Homo sapiens: one gene and its partners. The protein of the gene in region 2 purifies or fractionates together with the protein of the main gene of each other region. This does not show direct contact. Each region holds a gene or a part of one and is shown on either strand. Other genes may lie near its edges.

The links.
Region 1: the proteins of NPEPL1 (region 2) and SCIN fractionate together in Homo sapiens (co-fractionation; one large-scale study listed by BioGRID). This does not show direct contact.
Region 3: the proteins of NPEPL1 (region 2) and HMBS fractionate together in Homo sapiens (co-fractionation; one large-scale study listed by BioGRID). This does not show direct contact.

The regions. Positions count from the first base shown.
Region 1 is NC_000007.14:12,643,635-12,647,282, forward strand, and holds part of SCIN (scinderin), read left to right. Parts: intron 1-503; coding exon 504-681; intron 682-949; coding exon 950-1,071; intron 1,072-3,648. UniProt on the Homo sapiens protein: Ca(2+)-dependent actin filament-severing protein that has a regulatory function in exocytosis by affecting the organization of the microfilament network underneath the plasma membrane.
Region 2 is NC_000020.11:58,709,726-58,713,145, forward strand, and holds part of NPEPL1 (probable aminopeptidase NPEPL1), read left to right. Parts: intron 1-2,753; coding exon 2,754-2,854; intron 2,855-3,420. UniProt on the Homo sapiens protein: Probably catalyzes the removal of unsubstituted N-terminal amino acids from various peptides.
Region 3 is NC_000011.10:119,083,287-119,087,685, reverse strand, and holds the start of HMBS (porphobilinogen deaminase), read right to left. Parts: upstream 2,806-4,399; 5' UTR 2,653-2,805; coding exon 2,620-2,652; exon of another isoform or gene 2,529-2,619; intron 1,876-2,528; exon of another isoform or gene 1,793-1,875; intron 1-1,792.

The DNA of each region.
Region 1 (3,648 bases), on a different chromosome or scaffold from region 2:
CACATCATGGCTGCCTTCATCCTGGCAGTTCAGTGTGGTTGGCCAAGCAGCACCATTTGGCACAGCAAATCACCCCTGCCTTCTTGAAGCATTTTCCTCACTTGGCCTCAAGATCACTTTACGCTCTTGTTTTCCTCCTCCGTCTCAGCTGCTCCCCCTCAGTCTTGCTTACTGGTTCTTCTTCCTCTTTCTGGAATCACACATCACACTTGTTTGACAATTATACAGAAAGTCATACCAGTGACATAGTAGCACAGTCATATGGTCAGACAGTTCTCACAGAGACAGACACAGAGTCACAAATCCACAAGTGACACAGACCGAAGTGCTCCTACTCTAGGGTTTAAAATACCATAGTGGTGTCCCAGAGCGGCTCTGAATTAATTTCCTGGGATAGGGCAGAAGGCGATGTATGGTTTGCCACAGTCACAGCTTCTGGGACATGTTTATTGAGGGAGCAGCAATGAATTTGAATCATTGTTTTATTTTTCTTCATATTCCAGGTTGATGTTGATGCAAATTCACTGAATTCTAACGATGTTTTTGTCCTGAAACTGCCACAAAATAGTGGCTACATCTGGGTAGGAAAAGGTGCTAGCCAGGAGGAGGAGAAAGGAGCAGAGTATGTAGCAAGTGTCCTAAAGTGCAAAACCTTAAGGATCCAAGAAGGCGAGGAGCCAGGTGTGTGCTCTGGGGCCAAGGGCACTAACTAGAATTTATACTGATACGATTGCTAATCATCTTTTTTTCACCAAAAAGTCACTTTCTAATGGCTTATAAGGGTTAACAATCTCTCCATTAGTTGCAGAGGTGGGTGGGTGATGGTACCTGATTTCTTTAAGTAATTTCTCAACACTGAAATCAAGGTGAGATAATATTTGTTCATATAAAGCGACAGCAAGCATATGTCCCTGAAAATGCACTGGATAACTGAGTGTGTTTTCCACAGAGGAGTTCTGGAATTCCCTTGGAGGGAAAAAAGACTACCAGACCTCACCACTACTGGAAACCCAGGCTGAAGACCATCCACCTCGGCTTTACGGCTGCTCTAACAAAACTGGAAGATTTGTTGTAAGTGTCCTTAAAAATAGTGCGATAGGGCTGGTTGCGGTGGCTCATGCCTGTAATCCCAGCACTTTGGGAGGCCGAGGCAGGCAGATCACCTGAGGTCAGGAGTTCGAGACCAGCCTGACCAACATGTAGAAACCGTCTCTACTAAAAATATAAAAATTAGCTGGATGTGGTGGTGCACACTTGTAATTCAAGCTACTCGGGAGGCTTGAGGCAGGAGAATCACTTGAACCCAGGAGGCGGAGGTTGCAGTGAGCCAAGGTCGCGCCACTCCACTCCACTCCAGCCTGGGCAACAAGAGCAAAACTCCGTTAAAAAAAAAAAAAAAAAAGGGCCGGGCGCGGTGGCTCATGCCTGTAATCCCAGCACTTTGGGAAGCTGAGACGGGTGTATCACGAGATCAAGGAGTTCCAGACCAGCCTGGCCAATATGGTGAAACCCCCTCTCTACTAAAAATACAAAAATTAGTCAGGCATGGTGGTGGGTGCCTGTAGTCCCAGCTACTTGGGAGGCTGAGACAGGAGAATCTCTTGAACCCAGGAGGCGGAGGTTGCAGTGAGCCAAGATCGTGCCACTGGCACCACTGTGTTCCAGCCTGGGCAACAGAGTGAGACTCCATCTCAAAAAAAACACAAAAAACAAAAAACAGTGAGATAGAACCTAACAACGCCGGGAAGGGCATTCCCATGTGGCTCTGACACCTTCAGACATGCTACTGTTCTGAATCTCAGTTTCAGCCTGCCTACAAACCACGGTGACAACCTTTGCTCTACACAGGGTATTTTTTTTAAACTTTTATTTTAAGTTCAGGGGTACATGTGCAGGTTCGTTACATAGGTAAACTTGTGTTGTGGGAGTTTGTTGTACAGATTATTTCATCACCCAGGTATTAAGCCTAGTATCCATTAGTTATTTTTCCTGATCGTCTCCCTCATCCCACCTTCCACCTTTCGATAGGCCCCCAGTGTGTGTTGTTCCTCTCTATGTGTCCGTGTGTTCTCATCATTTAGGTCCCACTTATAAGTGAGAACCTGCAGTATTTGGTTTTCTGTTCCTTACACAGGGTATTTTAAGGATTAATGATATAATTAATGTGAAAGCATTAATGTTGTGATGTCCTATATAGATTAAGCTGTTCTTAAAAGTACTAGCTACTTTACACCTGTGTGAGCATGCAGTTGCTGTATGAATATATATGTGGCTAGATGTGTTAATTTAATAATTTGGCATTTTCTGTGGGCAGCAATCATTATTTCTGATCAAACTATGTAAATTTTACATGTCAATTTCCCAGCGGAGTAAAAATTTTCACCATATTGACTGAATTAAAAATATTATGGAAATATTATGATCATTGGGCAAAAATCACAGAAAGCTATATATGCAGTTACAAATTAACTGATATCAACAGGAATGTTTTATTTCATAGTCATTTACAAGCTTTGACTTCCAGTCCAGTCAGAAGTAAAATTAGAAGTATGTGTATGCATGTCTTAGTTCAAGCTCCTATCACAAAAATACCATTGACTGTGTGGTTTAAACCACAAACATTTATTTTTCATGGTTCTGAAGGCTGAGAAGTCCAAGATTAAGGCAACAGCAGATCTGATGTCTGGTGAGGGACCACTGTCTAGCCTTCTTGTGTCCTCACATGGCCAAGAGAGCAAGCTCTAGTCGTGTTCTTTCCTTATAAAGACAGACACTAAGCAGGGGCACTGTACCCTCATGGCCTCATCTGAACCTAATTACCTCCCAAAGGCCCCACCTCCTACTACCATGCCATTGGAGGCTAGGGGTTTAGCATAGGAATTCTGGAGGCAAACAAACATCCAATACAAAAGAATACAGGAGTGATTTTACACTAGGCTCTGAAATATCATCCTGAACCACAGCCTCTCACCTAAATTTCAAAAAAAAAAGTTATACTTTCTCTGTTTGACGTGCTAAGTTTTTGGTAAATTTTTCATTTAAAGAATGAATTCTTCTTTTATATAAAATTTGATCCACAGATTTTGGTCAACATGCCCTAGTGAATAAATGCAAACTTCATTTTTCAACACAGGAAAGAAAATTTCCCACGTATTTTGTCAGATATTTTGATTACTAGAAATAAAATTATTTGAGATGAAGTGGTTCAAGTCTCCCTTGAAGGTTATAAATGATTTGACCTACAAGTTAAAGATTTAAACAGTGCATTGAGATAAATATTTGGTTGCTGTATACCACAATTTGCTCACCTACTTTACAGGAAATCCCTGAACTTGCTATATTTTATAGATTTGTCATCAGAAAAATCTGCTGTTTTATTGTTTTGACTTGATATTGCATCCAAGCAACTTATTTTTCAGCATATGCTCCTATAATTTCTTATTAGAATTATTTATTAACATTGCTATAAATTAGTTGTTTGTTTCCAAGAAAAATGTATTTTACAAAAATAAGTACCTAGGCTTTGTTCTCAGTGTGTTTAAAGAAAAAAGATCTGTTAGTCTTTGGCTTTTTGTTATGCGTATATATTAGCCTTTAAGAGAAATATACATTTCCTCTGCACCAACTCATTTTCTTGTTTGATATTTG
Region 2 (3,420 bases):
CAAAAATGCATGGCCTGCCTGTAGTCACAAGGACACGTCAGACAAACCCAGCACTGAAAGTGCCAAGGCCACAAAAGACAAAGCCAGACTATGCAGTCGCCCAGATTAAGGAGGGCAAGCAGGCCAGGCTTGATGTGTGGTCTGATCTGATCTGGACGTCTGAGGAGCACATGGAATCTGGATGGTCCCGAGAGGTGATGGTCCTGTGTTGGTGATTACTACCCCCTGCTGCCCATTGTCCCATGGCTGGACAAGATGCTGACATTGGCAGAATCTGGGTGAAGGGTGTTGAGGAATTGTTTGTGGCTTTTTTTTTTTTTTTTTTTTCCCCGAGATGGTGTCTTGCTCTGTTGCCCAGGCTGGTGTGCAGTGGTGCGATCTCGGCTCACTGCAACGCCTCCCAGGTTTAAGTGATTCTCCTGCCTCAGCCTCCAGAGTAGCTGAGATTACAGGCATGTGCCACCACCCTTGGCTAATTTTTGTATTTTTAGTAGAGACAGGGTTTCACCTTGTTGGCCAGGCTGGTCTTGAACTCCTGACCTCAAGTGATCCGCCCACCTCAGCCTCCCAAAGTGCTGGGATTCTGGCATGGGCCACTGCTCCTGGCTGTTTGTGACTATTTCTGCAATTTTTTTGTAAGTTTGAAATTATTTCACAGTGAAATGTTTTGAACTTTTTAGAAAGAGGATGTACCATTCAAAGATGGAAGGGTACGCCAGGAGCTCGGTGGCCCTGGGCTCTGGGGGTGTTAGCGACCCTCCAAGCCTGGCACCAAAAAAAAAAGCCCCTGACCCACTTACCAACCCAAAACCCTTGGCCGCCCTGGGGGACCAGGCCCAAGCCCTGGCGTAGCACTGGAGACCCTTCCCACGCTGTCGCTGAAGCACTCACAGTCCAGCCCCATCTTTGGCCACCCTCTTCTGTTAGACCAGCAAGTCCCAACTGTGCCAGGTAACACCCAGGAAGTGTGTGAACATTGACAGCTCCAGGGCTCACCTCCAGCTCTGCTGAGTCTTGGATTTTTTCAGCCGCTCCTGGTGATTGGAGAACACCTCCAGACTGGCCGTGAGGGCCGCAAGGGCAGGGCCGTGCCTGTGCTGTCTCTGTCTCACGTCTTCCAGCCGTGCAGACCTCAGCACTGTTTGCCCCAGGACTGCAGCTCGCTCGTCTTCTAAGCCAGCACTTCTCAAGTGGGGTCCCCATGTTGTTAGTAATATGGGTTCTCAGCTCTGCCCCAGACCTGCTGGATCAGAAATTAGGGGCAGGGCCCAGCCTTCAGCGGGTAGCAGCCCTCCCTGGGAGGCTGAAAGCATCCATTTGGGAATCCTCCTCCTCCCCGCTCCTCCCTCCTCCCCCCCCGCCTCCTCTCCTCCTCCTCCTCCCCCCCTCCTCCCCCTCTCCTCCTCCTCCCCACGCCCCAGCAGGCTACAGATCCAGAACTCTGCTTTCTAGGAGGACTTCAGGGCTCCCCTCCTTTGTTGGTGGAGCTCATCTCTGTGGCGTCCATGGCCTGGAGCCCCATGGCCTCATCCTGTGACCTCAGGGTCATGCTGTCATTTATTCGTTGTTCCTAAACACCCACTTCTCCCTGGAATGACCACAGGAGGCCTCAGCACAGGGACAGGCCGTGGTCACTGTACACACAGATGGAATGTCAGTGCTGGGGTATCTGGGGAGGAGCTCTGAGAGGAGGAGGCTGAGGGTCCTGAAGCCCCTGCCCCGTGTCCCTGACACAGGCTGGGCTGCGAGAGTGGGAGCGGGGGACTTGGGGCCCTTGTGGAGCTGACAGGTGGCTCCGATATCATCACCCTGAGGCTGGTGGGGTTCTTTCCCCTGTGCTGCGTGGGGGTGCGGGGCCATCTGTGAGGCTCAAGGACTGAGCGGGGACCCAGGGAGGTCTCAGGGACTCGCAGCTGCCATGCCCAGCACCACTGCTGCAGCTCCTGCCACTGGCCACTCCTTGCCCTGCTGGCTGCCCCTGCCCCACCATCCCAAGTGTTTGCCTTTGGTGAGGGCTCTGCACCCGTGGTGGAAGAGTCGGCTGTTCCAGGAGATGAGAAAGACGCTGGATCCTATAGAGCTGTGTGTCCGCGCTCTCGAGGCATGCTCCATGCTAGGAGGATGTATTCTGGTTAAAGATTCGTCTGCGGGAGCAGAGGAAGGGCAGGGACAGGGGTCTGGGAGCTCTACTCCATTTGACATTGCTGCCCGGGTGTGGCCCGCTTCGGGGTCAGGGGGCACCCTTAGAACCTGTGCAGGGCAGGAACTGCCACCATCTGTTGGCCACACATTTCTCAGTGAACAAATGACTTTTGGCATCAGAAAGCCATAACTTCACACCTAAACTTCCACGAGGCTGAGCTCTTCCTGCCCCTCTGTGTGTGTACGTGTGTGTGTGTGTGTATTGAGGGGACGCGGCTGCTGGCCACCTTCTGTCGGCACAGGTTGGCGAGGCTTCATGACTGCCCAGCCCATGCAGTCCAAGAGTCCCACAGCCCAGCCCATGCCCAGGCTCATCCACTGCGGCGGGTGGCCTCTGCCAGGGGAGGCTAGGAAACCCCAGTGGTGAGCCTTGGCCTTGGGATCTGCCAGGACTGTACCCGGGATGGCAGGGAGGGCGAGCTTTGGTCCCTGCAACTTGGAGCCATCTCTCTCTCTCCTGCTGTCTGTGGGTCTGAGAACCCCCAGCTCGTCCTCCCCCCTCCCCAAACCTATGACCTACAACTGGAGCCTCTGCCCACTTCTCCCTCCAGGGTTTCAAAGACAACCTCCACGCTGTGTTCTGCTTGGCTGAGAACTCGGTGGGGCCCAATGCGACAAGGCCAGATGACATCCACCTGCTGTACTCAGGGAAGTACGTCTGGCCCTCCCACTCCTTCCTGCCCACTGTTGGAACTCGCGACCCTTCCCGGCCTGCAATGCCAGCTCACTCCAGGCATATCGGGAGGGCACTCAGCGTTGGGGTCCCCTGGGCAGCAGGCTCCTTGCTTCCCGGAGGGCTGGGGAGCTTTGGTAGCAGGCGCACCTCACGTTGAGGGGCCCATGGCACCTGGATGAGGTGCTAGGCTCCCGTGCAGTGCCTGGCCCAGGAGCTCGTGGTCTACCCTGCATTACCAGGACAGGTCTTTCCAAAATTTAGGCCTGAAATCTTTGGGTGTGTGAAGCTCTGACCCCCAGATTCCCTGCTCGGGGACACCTCCTGCATCTCCCCCTTGAGATTGACCCTGGAAAGTCAAAGCTGAGCTGGCAGCTGAGGAGCAAGTGGCTCCAGAATTCAAAAGAGAAGAGCCCTCTCCCCAGCCCCATGAGCTGGTGCCTGAGTGGGCGCCTCCCCGCATCTCCTGCTCTTCCTCCCCATCTGCCGGGTGCCAGGCACAGTGTGCTGAAGGCCAGCCCAGCCGGTTCATGCCACCCACTTTA
Region 3 (4,399 bases), on a different chromosome or scaffold from region 2:
GCTACAAAAGAAGTCAAGAGGATGAAGATCCCACAGTGGGGAAAGCTGACAGTATTAAGGGTCCCTTAATCTGGCTGGACTGCATGCATTAAGGACTGAGGTAAACGGATCTGACGTACAGTCCTGCTCAGCCTCTTGGCTGGGTGACCTTGGGTACACTGTCCCACCAGGATCTGTTTGTTCATCTATAAAATGAAAAGGTTGGACTCAGGTTTCTTCTGCCTCAGATGTTCCATAAGACTAGGAGGCTGCGCTGCCTAAAGTTCGTGCACCTAGAGTGCTGCCTCTGGTTTCACCAACATGGAAATATTAACAGGCCAGAGCCCAAGTCAAGAACTCAAGAGGACACGCCTCTTCCTCCTGCCAGAGTACCTTGGACAAAAGTATTCACTGCTAAGCACGTAGAACTGAATTCTTCAGTCTAAGACGGAGGTCCCATTTCTCTCTTTTTTTTTTTTTTTTTTTAGACAGAGTCTCACTGTTTTGCTCAGGCTGGAGTGCAGTGGCGTGATCTAGGCTCACTACAACCTCCACCCCTGGGTTCAAGCTGGAACTACAGGCATGTTCCACCATGCCCAGCTAATTTTCACATTTTTAGTAGAGACGGGGTTTCACTGTGTTGGCCAGGCTGGTCTCGAACTTGTGATCCTCCTGCCCCAGCCTCCCAAAGTGCTGGGATTACAGGCGTGAGCCACCACGCCTAGCCTGATCCCATTTCTTTCTACATCAGACAGTAGCCACTGTAGATACTGATACTGTCGACAGTCAACATTCCCTGATCTGGGATGTTCATCCTATGTAGTTCCTTTTTTTTTTTTTTTTGAGACAGAGTCTCCCTCTGTTGCCCAGGCTGGAGTGCAGTGGCATGTTCTCAGCTAACTACAACCACTGCCTTCCAGGTTCAAGCGATTCTCCTGACTCAGCCTCCCAAGTAGCTGGGACTACTACAGACGCACACCACCATGCCCAGCTAAAATATGTGTGTGTGTGTATATATATATATATATTTTTTTTTTTTTTCTTTTTTTGAGGGGGAGTCGCGCTCTGTCACCCAGGCTGGAGTGCAATGGCGCGGTCTCGGCTCAGTGCAACCTCCACCTCCCAGGTTCAAGCGATTCTCCTGTCTTAGCCTCCCAAGTAGCTGGGACTACAGGCGCATGCCACCACGTCGGCTAATTTTTTGTATTTTTAGTAGAAACGGGGTTTCACTGTGTTCCCTAGGCTGGTCTCGAACTCCTGAGCTCAGGCAATCCACCTGCCTCGGCCTCCCAAAGTGCTAGGATTACAGGCATGAGCCACTGTGCCCGGCCTAATTTTTATATTTTTAGTAGAGACGGGGTTTCACCATGTTGGTCGGGGTGCTATGGAGTTCTTTTGCACCCAGACATCTGGGGCCTCTATTGCCGAAGCAGGTGACAGCTTTCTGCCCTCAGACTCTGGTCTACTCCATGTGATCACTCCAATAAATTAACCCTGGGAGACCCTTTGCAAATTAGGCTAGGCTTGATATTAAACGTGGCCACCAAAATTCTGGGCCACAGGGAGCCCACAGAAAGGACTCTAAGGTCCCAGAACTACTAGGTTCAAACAATTCCTTAAGTTCATTGAATGTGCACAGCATATCCAAGTCAAACCGTTTCATTAAAAAATAAAACACTGAGCACTTCTATGTTGAAGCTATTGCTTTTGCATATTGTTGTCGTCTCAAAAATCCTATCAGGTGGACAAGACAGGCACCTTTGGGACCATGTTACAGAAGCAACGGGTGGCATCAAGGGATGAGGTGACTTGCCTAGGGTCACAGAGCTAATAACCGAAAGAGAGTTGGGGCCACAATTCAGATCTTCCTACTCCTAGTCCAGGGCTCTGGAATGACTGCAAGAGCAAAGATCCCAGCCCTCACCAACAGGCTGGACAGGGGGAGATTAGCAGCTCCCCATCTCTTTCTTATCTCGGCCTGGCAGTGGCCTCCACCAGCTCTGCAGTTTGTCTGTGCACAAGCCCAGGGCTCGGCAAGCAGGCTCGTAATGGAAAGGCCCACGGCGGCCTCCCACCCACGGTAGTAATTCAGTAGGTGTGTCACAGCTGGGGACTTGGAGCGTTGGCTGTGGCTGGGAGACCACTATAACACAAAAAGAAGGCGCACTTCTAAGACGTTTGTGTGCAGTTCGGAGGCTTGGCTGATACTCTCTCCTATGAATCAAAAGTGGAACGTGTCTTCCCAAAGGGGCCGTATCTGCATCCGCCTCAGCCCAGCCTCGAATGAAAGGACCCCGTCTGTGTAGACGAACGTTCTTGGTCTGGGTCACTAAATCTAGAGCCGTGCATCCCAGGCCTGATGGGAATCCCACCCAGATGCCCGCAGGGACCGGAGTTCCGTTCCAAACAATCCTTCCACTCTTAACCCAGTATCACCGCTCTCTGATTTCCCCATTCCTTCCGGAGGGCAACCGAGCTACTGGCCCTTTAAAAGCTACTCGGACCAAAAAAAAAAAAAAAAAAAAAAAAAAAAAGATAGCCGTTCTGACCAATAGACGACTGAGGATGGCAACCTGGGGCCAATCGCTGCACGGCTCGTCCAGAAGCCCAAAGTGTGCTGGTCACCGGCTCAGCACTCACCGCCGTTGCAGCCGCATTGCCGTTACCAGACATGGCTCCGCTTGGAAAGTAGGCTGTGTGTGGGTGCCGCTAAGGTCCCCCGGCCCCGGGAAGCCGGGGGCTCCGGCCGGCGAGTACCGGGGACACGTGGGACCCGAGGTCGTCCTACAGTCTGACTCCTGGTCTCCGCAGAGCCTCGCGTCACTTCCGGCGCCCTCCCTCGAAGGGGAGGTCCCTCCCTCTGGGCGGGAATTGGAACATTGCGACAGTGGACCTCCCCATTCGACCACCCCATTCCCCAGCTGTGACATGAGCAAGTAGTGCAGCTTCTATGGCGCTTCCTTTGCTCTGTTCAAACTTAGCTTTGCTACAACCTTGAAATAGGCAGCATTTTTCTTTTTGATACGGGGTCTCACTGTGTCCCCAGACTAGAGTGCAGCGGCATGACCACGGGTCACTGCAGCCTTGACCTCCCGGCTTCAGCGATCCCCCCACCTCAGCCTCCCAAGCAGCTGGGACTACAGGCGCACATCACCACGTGGGACTAATTTCTAGATTTTTTTATAGAGACAGCGGGGAGGTGGCCTCACTATGTTGCCCAGGCTAGTCTCGAACTCCTGGACTCAAGCAGTCATCTCGCCTTGGCCTCCCAAAGTGCTGGGATTACAGGCGTGAGCCACTGGCCCAGCCAGCATTTCAATTCTTAAAATGAGGAAACTGGTTCAGAGAGATTAAAGGTCATGCCTAAAGACAAGTAACTGAAGTGGGAGCACAAACGCTACATGTAGTGAGAAAAGGGCTTGTTAGGAAAAGTGCTTTCCCATGAACATAATTTTTTTTTTTTTTTTGAGACGGAGTTTCGCTCTTGTTGCCCAGGCTGGAATGCAATGGCACGATCTCAGCTCACTGCAACCTCCGCCTCCCGGGTTCAAGCAATTCTCCTGCCTCAGCCCCCCGAGTAGCTGGGATTACAGGCACGCACCACCACACCCAGCTAATTTTGTATTTTTGGTAGAGATGAGGTTTCTCCATGTTAGTCAGGCAGGTCTTGAACTCCTGACCTCAGGTGATTCGCCCACCTCGGCCTCCCAAAGTGCTGGGAGTACAGGCGTGAGCCACCGCGCCTGTAATCATGAACATAATTAACAATCATGATTATTAATAATCACCCAGCTAGGTGCAGTGGCTCACACCTATATTCCCAGCACTTTAGGAAGCCAAGGCAGGAGGATTGCTTGAGCCCAGGAGTTTGAGACCACCCTGGGCAACATGGTGAAAACCTCATCTCCACAAAAAATACAAAAATAGCCAGGTGTGGCGGCACACACCTGTAGTCCCAGCTATTCAGGAGGCTGAGGTGTGAGGATCGCTTGAGCCCAGGAGGTCGAGGTAGCTGTGAGCTGTGGTGGTGCCACTGCACTCTAGCCTGGATGACAGAGTGAGACGCCCATTTTTTTTTTTTTTTTTTTTTGAGATGGAGTTTCACTCTTGTTGCCCAGGCTGGAGTGCAATGGTGCAATCTCAGCTCACCGCAACCTCCACCTCCCGGGTTCAAGCAATTCTCCTGCCTCACCCTCCTGAGTAGCTAGGATTACAGGCACCTCCCACCACACCCAGCTGGTTTTTGTATTTTTAGTAGAGACGGAGTTTCACCATGTTGGTCAGGCTGGTCTTGAACTCCTGACCTCAGGTGATCCGCCCACCTCAGCCTCCCAGAGTGCTGGGAATACAAGCATGAGCCACCGCGCCCGGTGAGACCCTGTCTTAAGAAGAAAAAAAAAATCACCCATGTGCTCAGCAC